Linked DNA regions of Homo sapiens. The protein of the gene in region 2 purifies or fractionates together with the protein of the main gene of each other region. This does not show direct contact. Each region holds a gene or a part of one and is shown on either strand. Other genes may lie near its edges.

Region 1 (4,708 bases), on a different chromosome or scaffold from region 2:
GATGGGGTTTCACCATGTTGGCCAGGCTAGTCTCAAACTTCTGACCTCAAGTCATCTGCCTGCCTCAGCCTCCCAAAGTGCTGGGATTACAGGCGTGAGTCATCACACCTGGCCAGTTATGTATTTTAAATGCAGCCTGCCTCTCCTTCCAGTTCTATTAAGTAACCTACTGATACTAAACCTTTCCCTACAGGATGTGATACGAATTTATGATTCAAGGGGTATTTTTAAATTTTATTTTATTTTTTAAAAGATGGAATCTCTCTGTCCCTCAGGCTGGGGTGGATTGGCACAATCATAGCTCACTGCTGCCTCAAATTCCTTGGCTCAATGGATCCTCCTGCCTCAACCTCCTTAGTAGCTGTGACTATAGGCACATGCCACTGAGCCCGGCTAATTTTTAAATTTTTTGTAGAGATGAGGTCTCACCATCTTGCCCAGGCTGGTCTCAAACCTCTGGGCTCAAGTAATCCTCTCCCTTACCCTCTCAAAGTGTTGGGATTACAGGCGTGAGCCACCACGCCTGATCTGTTTGTGTTTACAGTCATGAAAGGAGAGAAACCATTGTTGTAAAAAAAATGCCAATTCAGGCTGGGCGTGGTGGCTCATGTCTGTAATCCTAGCACTTCGAGAGGCCAAGACAGGAGAACTGCTTGAGGCCAGGAGTTTGAGACCAGCCTGGGCAACACAGAGAGACCCCACCTCTATTAAAAAAAGAAAGAAAGAAAAAACCAATTCATTATATGATTTGTTTCCCATACAGCGTTTCAAAATACTGCCAAATCAAATATCAGATTTGTGTATTTTATAATGAGATCTGTCTTGAGGAACAGTGTAATGCAATGCACGTAGAGACTATCACTGGCTAAAGCCAACCTATGAATTGTTAATATTACATTCTTATAGTCTCTGTTTCTAATCTTAATGTTCAATGCCAGGTCAGTCTAGAAACCAATCTTATGGGGCATGTGGGGAAAGAATCAGATAAAAGAGGCACACAGAATGCTCGGCTATCAGATGGAAGTACAACAATCTAAACAGGAAATATACATGTACTCTGCAGTTACAAATACTGCAGACATCATCTGTAGCCTGTAAGTCTGCGATTAAGATAAACAGAAAACCAGATGCTGGGAGGAAATATTCTGAAGAAAGGAGTTAGGTCATGGAATTACCTGGCTCTTCTTTTAAACCAATTGGTTTTCCGCTTGAACACAAAGCTGTACTCATCACTCTGTCCATACGCGATCACAATATCCTCTAGTTCTTCCATCACAGTCTGCGCACATTTGGTCATCAGCTGGAGAGCACGGCTGTCATTGGGTTTTGCAAAGTTGTGCTTCTCAGCAAACCTTCACAGGGGAAAAAGGGAAGAAAGCATGGATGGAAGCCTGTCATTAACAACACGCTCTGTTGCTAGATAACAGAGGCTGTTTGGAGGAAGATAATGTAATAGCACTGTGAACTCAAATGCTCAACTAGCCACAACCTGATCCATTTTCTTAAGAACTTAGTTTTTTTCCTGCCCTGAAATTGAGAAAGCCAGACAGAAATGCTAAGCCTCAACTCTCCTTTCTGTGAAATGGGAATAAAAGAATATTTACCTCATTGGGTTGTCCTGAAGATTAGGGAGAAGATAAAAGTAATCATACCTAGCTCCTAGTAAGTGCTCAATAAATGTTAGTTATAATAATCATTAACAATGCAGCCCTCTTCAAAGATTAAATTCCCATCTTTCTGTTATATTTCTTTCTCCCCCTCCCTCTTTTTCTGAGACAGGGTCTTGCTCTGTCACCCAAGCTGGAGTGCAGTGTCCAATCACCGCTCACTGCAGCCTTGACCTCCCAGGCTCAAGCGATCCTTCCACCTCAGCCTTCCCAGTAGCTGGAACTACATGTGTGCACCACTGCGCCGGGCAAATTAAATTTTTTCTTTTTCTTTCTTTCTCTCTTCCTTCTTTCTCTCTCTCTCTCTCTTTTTTTTTTTTTTTTTTTTTTTTTTTTTGTAGTGGCGGAGTTTCACAAACAACAACCACAGAAAAAACAAAACAAAAACAAAAACTTGGTCTCCAACTCCTGGCCTTAAGTGATCCTCCTGCCTCCCGCGCCCAGCCTTCTCTTTTTTTCTGACTCTCTGTTGAATCTAGTCCATGTGGCCTGTTACTGATAATGAAGCACAGACGTTAAGTATTGCCCACAAGCAAGGCTTACACAGACTTCTGAACAGTCAGCATTCAAAGATATCTAACAGAATAGCTAGGCAATTGGCTTAAGAGCTTAAATATTGTGCATGAGAGTGACTTTTAACAACAGGTCCTTGCTAACAAGTCTCTGTTCACTTAACACGGGCACTCCAAGCCAGATCCTCATCACGGGAGCACATCGCCCATTCAATTACGCTAACAGCCAGCGTTCAGGCACTGTCCTAGCCAACACGCAGGGCGGGGCAATGCTCCATGCTGCGCACTCATTGGCTACCGCGTTACCCTGGTAACCGTGACTGGAGCGGGCGGGAGGACTTGCAAGGGAAGAAGCTGGATTCCCCGGAAGCGCTGGCGCATCGCGACGCCCCGAGTCGAGCTCGCTCACCGATGGAAATTCCGGCCGTCCAGCCGCACTACCACCCAGCAGTGTGCCAGGCAGGTGTCGTCAGCCTCGAAGTCCCTCACGTACTCGAACTTGCTTTTTGCCATGGTCGCCCCCAATCTCAGGTACCGTCTCAGAGTGATGGAAATGGTGGCCAAGGAATCGTGAACCTTAACTTTACAGGCGCCCCACATTCTACACGCGGAAAGGAAAGGGCCAGATAGCCCCGCCCCGGAAGTGTTCTCTTCGCGGCTACTCTAGCCGTAGGGCAGTCATAGTCTCTCTCGCCTCTCCCTGTAGTTCTTAACCTCCCAGGCAAAGAGGATGGAGGTTTAGGTTCCTCCGTTAGCACCTTCCACGCTTGCTTCTTCCTCCTCCCGTCCTGCGGCAAATCAGTCTCACGAGGTTTTTAAAAATTATTTTTTATCTGCTGGTCTTGACTTACTGGCAAAAGCAATCAGTGTCCCCGTTAGTGCCCAGATCAAAATCATACCCCAACCTAAAAAAAAAAAAAAAAAAAAAAATTCTTTTTCTGGTGTTTGAAGGTGTAGCTGTGATGTTTCCCCTTTTCTTAGTGGCATTTATTAACTTGTAGAAAATCTGGAATACACCAAAACTATAGTTAAGAAAATTAACACTTTGTTTCTCCGTCTTTCCCATCAAAGCATTGTGGATGGTTCCTTTCAGTCTTTTTTCTTTTTGTGTATGTAGGTTTACACAGGGAATGCACAAGATTGGAATTATTCGCCTATACAATGTTTATATATTTTTCCACTCAGCTTGAGCATTTGCCAGTATCATCAATTATTCCAAAGTGTGATTTTTAAAAGAAAAATGGACTCAATATTCCAACATATGGGTATACTAAATTGATTTATTCAACTTTTTCACCATTAAATAATCACAGAACCAGTGTTTGATATCTTGTTGCTGGTGGATAATAGTAAAAATAAAATCCTAATATTTGTGTCATACTTTGTGATTTACAAAGCTCTTTCAAATTCATTACCTACTTACTTACTTTTTTTTTTTTTCCATCCTCAAGAAAGATATTCAGGCCAGGCACGGTGGCTGACGCCTGTAATCCCAGCACTTTGGGAGGCAGAGGCAGGAGGATTGCTTGAGTTCAGGAGATTCATACCAGCCTTGGCAACGTAGCAAGACCCCTGTTCCTACAAAAAAGAAAAAAAATTATCCAGGCTTAGTAGCCCATGCCCGTAGTCCTAGCTATGGGAGGATGAGGTGGGAAGATACTTGAGGCCAGGAGTTCGAGACTGCAGTGACCCATCATTAGCCACTGCACTCCAGCCTTGGTGACAGAGCAAGAATCTGTCTCTAAAGAAAAAGAAAAATATTCAAACAATATAAATCCTTTTATATGTAGCAAAAAGTCTCTCACTGACTCCTAACAACATACTTTAGGCAGTTACTGTTACCAGTTTTTTGTGTATCCATACAGGGATCTATATCAGTATGTGTGTATATCCTCATAATAGTACCACAAATGGTAGTCATCACTCCTTTGATGCTCAGAGTAACATCAGAGGGATGCAAAAGAGGAACTGGGATTTCACCTTTACAAAGGGGAAATCTGAGACTCAAAGAGAAAAAAATAATTTACATAAGGTCACATATGTGGCAGGACCAAGACATAAATTATGACATCCTGCATCTTTTCTTTGTTTCTGTTGCTGTGAAGTCAGTTTTCTGTAGGTTATCATTCCTCACCTTTTACTTCCACAAACTCCTCTCTCCAAGCTGACCAGGAGACAACCAAATCTTGCCTCCTCTAGGAGCCCTACTTTCATTAGGTGAATTTTTCAAAATTACTTATCAATATGAATTCATGATTTTTATTTTTTTTATGTGTATGTTTTCGAGACAGAGTCTCACTGTCACCTAGGCTGGAGTACAATGGCATGATCTCAGCTCACTGCAGCCTAGACCTCTTGGGTTCAGGTGAACCTCCCACCTCCCTTCCTAGTAGCTGGGACTACAGGTGCGTGCCACCATGCCCACCTAATATTTGTATTTTTTTTTGTAGAAACAGGGTTTCCCCATCCACATCCCACACTGGGAGATGAGACTCCTATCAGGGATGGGCTGAATATAAAATAAGCCAA
Region 2 (4,572 bases):
GCATTTATTTCCATGGGTTTTTTAAAAAAATGCCCACCTTGGGTACACATTAGTTGTTGATCAGATATTTACTTAAAATTTTTCCCAACCTTTTTTTTGTATAATTTTCTCCTTTATTATTACATAAAAATAACAATCAAAATTTAAATTGTAAAGCTTTTAGTAAAACATGTACTCTTAATTTATAATTTTAATTTTGGGTTTTACTCATAAACTCTCAGTTCAGTACTTCTAAATGCTTTTTTTCAAATGACTAAAACAAGAATGCAAGGTAACATTTGTACTATTTTTACTTTTCGACATCAAAAATGTCTGTCAAGATTAAAAATAAATCAGTGTCTGTGTTTAAGAATACTGAGAGCTGGTTTGAAATATTTTTCAAGGAGTTCAAAAATATGTTTTGGCGTGACTGTATTGCTCTTGCTTTTTTCATATTTTAAGTAGTATTACTTTCATTCTTATGACACTGAACCTGTTTATTCTGATGATCTAAGATATTTACAAATGAAGTGCATATCTAGTAGCGTGCAAAGTTTTTTTTTTCAGGTCTTTATTTGAAGAACCCAAATTCTCAAGTTTTACCATATGTGAACTGTTTTGAGAAGTAAGAAAAACAAATATCTTTAGTATACCACATTTGTTGTTCTAAACTTGAGTATGTTTTGATGTAGGGCCTAGGTTATTTTATTTTTTGCCCAAGGCATTCTAAGAAGTTTTATAAAATGTTGGAATTTTACCAATTTCAATAAAGTATGAACAAGGTCAGGCTAAATTCTGCTTACAGTTCTGTTTGATTTTTAAGTACATTCTAAGTTGTCTAGCGTAAAAGACAATAATATTCTGAAATCTGTGATTTGGTAAATACCATATGTTGAAAATAGACCTATAAATGGTTCTTCATTGTGTAAATATTTAACCTTACTTGTGCTGATTTATATTTCAAAGACTGTGCTTCCTTTCCTTTGAACTTTCAGGACCCCTACAAGTCTTTTGGTTTACCATCTATTGGGAGATTGTCTCAGTACCAAGAACCGTTACATCTACCTGGTGTAAGTCATTAAGCTGTAATACCAGCTGAAGGGTTAAAATCGTGATTTATGTCATACTTTTATGTTAAAGCATGTCAACACCAAAGGGTGTAAATTGAAGGACAAGTGAAATTCATGGGAATCATGGTTTTTGTGTTGAAAACAAATTTTTTTCAGTATTTTGTGGTGTTCAAGAAAGTCAGGATTCACTGGACAGGGGAAGCCTGGGGACATCTGATGATATAAATGATAGCTTACAGTGTTCCCAATTCTTTCGAAAATTATAATAAAAAAGGCTGTGAATCCTAAGAATGAGAAATGATGTTTTGTGTTACAATTTAATCTTTTCAATAAATCGAGTCCAACCCTGCTATATAGTCACTTGTCAAGAAATTCAAGCACAAAATCAGCTCCTTAATTGAAATTTAAGGAGATTGAATTAAGGCAAACAAAGTGTGCCTCAGTCTATTAAACCTCATGGACTTTAAAGAGTAATAATATTTATATCAGTTAAATAAAAGTGACCACTGTCCATTTTATTCCATAGCTCTTCTGTATTTAATAGCTATTTTGAAAATAGTTTTTGTTGCAGAAAAAGAGCAAGGACATACCCTTTTTCTTAATCAAGGTAATAAGTGCATATATATATATATATATGACATTATGTTAGCTAGTAGATGACAAGGCTGTACCATCTGTGAATATTCAAATTATTCATTTTGATTACTGGCATGAAGATGGTGAAAGATTACAGGAAGAATTCTAAATCTGAAGATATTATTGGATATATGATTTATTTCACTTTTTAAATTGTTTTTGCCCATGTGCTTTCTAAAGGGACTTGACCCTTTCTGTGCTTGGAGACTCCATGCTGTGTTCAAAGCCAGAAGGCAGAAAAAAAATTGTGAAGATTTAACAGGCATTATGTGACGTTAAATAGCACATGAGAAAACAAGTATCATAGGGACATATCTAAACACTTTTTTAATCAAACAAAAGAAGTATTAAATAAGAATTCATAATGATTACTCTAGTTGTTAGAAGTTTTCACCATGTTGTAATAGCTAACAGGATGTCAAACATTTTGCCCTCGCAAGTTTTTGCAATTTGCAATTTTCAAACGTGAGACCTGTTGAAAGTACAAGTGATAATGGACAAACTATACCCCCTACAGTCTTCATCCCACCAAATCTTTCTTCAATTAATGCTGCAGCAGGAGTTTTATGTAATAACATTTGCAGTTGTGAGCCATCCATAGAAAGAAAAAACAATTAAAATGCCTTAAATGTTCTGCTTACTGCTGTTATTTGCTTGTGTGAATGTTGCATGTCAGCTAAATGGACCAAGGAGTAGATAAAGTGATTGGGTGCAGGAGAGTGCACACTAAGCTTTGTCTATCATTATTGCTGGGAGCAATCAAATTGATGTCAGCAGGACAGTAGATGCGTTGACAGCTGTAATTATGTATCTCCATGGTGATCACTTTTGGCCTGTCATGGAGGCCCATGAGTCCCCTCCCTTGGAAGCATTTAATCAGATTGGGCTGTCACTTGTCAGGTAGACATGGCGGGCTGGGAGTTGTGCTTAGGGGGAGAGGTGAATTGAGAATGAAGGGTGGGAGATGTCTGATAGTTTCACAGAGTCCACTGTGGTACTGAAGACAGAAATTTTAATTATGCTAGAGGTTTCTGAGCAGTGGTTTGAGAATCTCGTACAGAGGTGCTTGGGTGTTTTGTTGTGGTTGTTATTGTTTGTTTTTCTTCCTTGTCTTATTAAAACTAGAGCAGTCAGTTTACCTTAGAAAACAATTTTTGGCTCTTACCTTTTTTGGTCACAAGAATGCATACTTAAGAGTTAACTTATGGTTTGTACTTTTCACATGCTTCATTAAGCCTGAGATTTATTAATATGGCAGAGGTGAAGATTTCCTTTTTTATTTTTGATCATCATGTTTTGTAAATTTGTTATTTTCAGACCACAGTTTTGTTCTGCTCAGAAATTTGGTTCTGATTTCATTTGAATTTTTTCTTAAAGTTTTTAGTGCAAATTTGTATAGCCTTTCATTGAAGGAATGGAGACTTGATCTGACTTCAGATTGGTTGTTAAGAAATAAAAATATAGCTGATTATTACTTGGAAAAAGCAGCATAAATAGTAAATTATAAAGCAGAGTTTTCATACTGTGGTACAGTTTTTAATTGGGAATACTGATTTGCTTATACAAAGATACGTGTTTATATATATCTTGATTTTATCGTATGTATTTTAAAGTTAAGATGACATAACTTCTGTGATCATAATATTAGTAAATAACAAAGACAGTTATATTTAATTAAGATCTGTAGGTAACACCTTATAGGATGATATTATTCAAGGCAACTGAAGTTTTAAGTAAGGAACTGTAGAAGAACATAATAAATATTCTTTATTGTCTATGTTATTTTATTTGTGGGTTGAACATCTAAGTTCTTCCTAGCTTTGTAGCAGTTTATGTAGCAAATGATAGGATGTAGTTAAAGTCAGAAGTTTTAGAACTTGTATCAGTCTCGTTTGTAAACACAGCATTAGCAAGCATGCTGTGGTTTTAAAGATGACATAGTGGTCAAATTAGCTCTTTCACTTTTTAGTACTAAAATTAAGAAAATGAAAACTCACAGATATATTTTCTGTTATGTAACCCGTTTACTAGTTGCCATTTTGGGGCTCTTTAATGTGGGGAAAAGGTAGATTGTGATTTTATTGCTTTTAAAGCTGCTCCATTAATTTTTTTCTAGTTTTTGTCAACACTGTGAATTTCATAGAACATCAGTTTATGTCCTGAAATATGTTTTCAGAAAATAGAAAGCCAAGTATATTTCGTAAGTGTGCTGAATGATTTTTGTTTATAATTAAGATTTTTGTATATGAATGTGAATACGAATACAGATATCTATATTTTTGTTTGTGCTTGCAAATACAGAAATAAAAGCCCTTCAGGTATGTTATAGTGTTCCTTTTACAACCTTACAAAGAGAATAATAGTAGTGTGAATTTTAAGAAAATGAAACTATCGCTTGTCTTCTGATGTCACCGTATAATAAAGCCATCATTATACCCTCATGTGGATATCCTAGACAAGAGGTTCTACATGTGGTCCCTTGATAATTGCCTAAATTAAAATATTAAAGGCCTAACAGCCGCTGTGTTGACCTTTTTCTGCCTTGCTGCAGACAGATGAGCTGCTGTTTATTAGGAAGGCTTCTTCCCACAGGTGGAAGGCTACGTGAGCTTCCGCTCTTCTCTTCCCACCCCTTTACAATGTTGGGCATCAAAGTCCTGCTGTTCCAGCAGCTTTGATTCAGTTCCTCCATCCTCAAGACCCCTAGGATGTGCCTGACAGTCTGAAGTATTTTGATTAGCTTTTAAATACTTCAGATTCCAAAACTTCTTTCTAATAATTTAATAAATGTTCTGTCCTCAGTAACTGCTCATTTTTAAAGTTTTGCATGGCTAACCTCCGTGCCTTGCTGCTGGTATCAAACTGGGAAATGAAAACAAGAATCAGT

The links. Proteins that work in one complex are often made in the same cells at the same time.
Region 1: the proteins of PCCA (region 2) and THG1L fractionate together in Homo sapiens (co-fractionation; one large-scale study listed by BioGRID). This does not show direct contact.

What each region holds. Positions count from the first base shown.
Region 1 is NC_000005.10:157,729,512-157,734,219, reverse strand, and holds the start of THG1L (probable tRNA(His) guanylyltransferase), read right to left. Parts: upstream 2,801-4,708; 5' UTR 2,780-2,800; coding exon 2,589-2,779; intron 2,422-2,588; exon of another isoform or gene 2,211-2,421; intron 1,791-2,210; exon of another isoform or gene 1,610-1,790; coding exon of another isoform or gene 1,605-1,609; intron 1,353-1,604; coding exon 1,176-1,352; intron 1-1,175. UniProt on the Homo sapiens protein: Adds a GMP to the 5'-end of tRNA(His) after transcription and RNase P cleavage. This step is essential for proper recognition of the tRNA and for the fidelity of protein synthesis.
Region 2 is NC_000013.11:100,301,950-100,306,521, forward strand, and holds part of PCCA (propionyl-CoA carboxylase alpha chain, mitochondrial isoform a precursor), read left to right. Parts: intron 1-974; coding exon 975-1,049; intron 1,050-3,801; exon of another isoform or gene 3,802-3,885; intron 3,886-4,572. UniProt on the Homo sapiens protein: This is one of the 2 subunits of the biotin-dependent propionyl-CoA carboxylase (PCC), a mitochondrial enzyme involved in the catabolism of odd chain fatty acids, branched-chain amino acids isoleucine, threonine, methionine, and valine and other metabolites.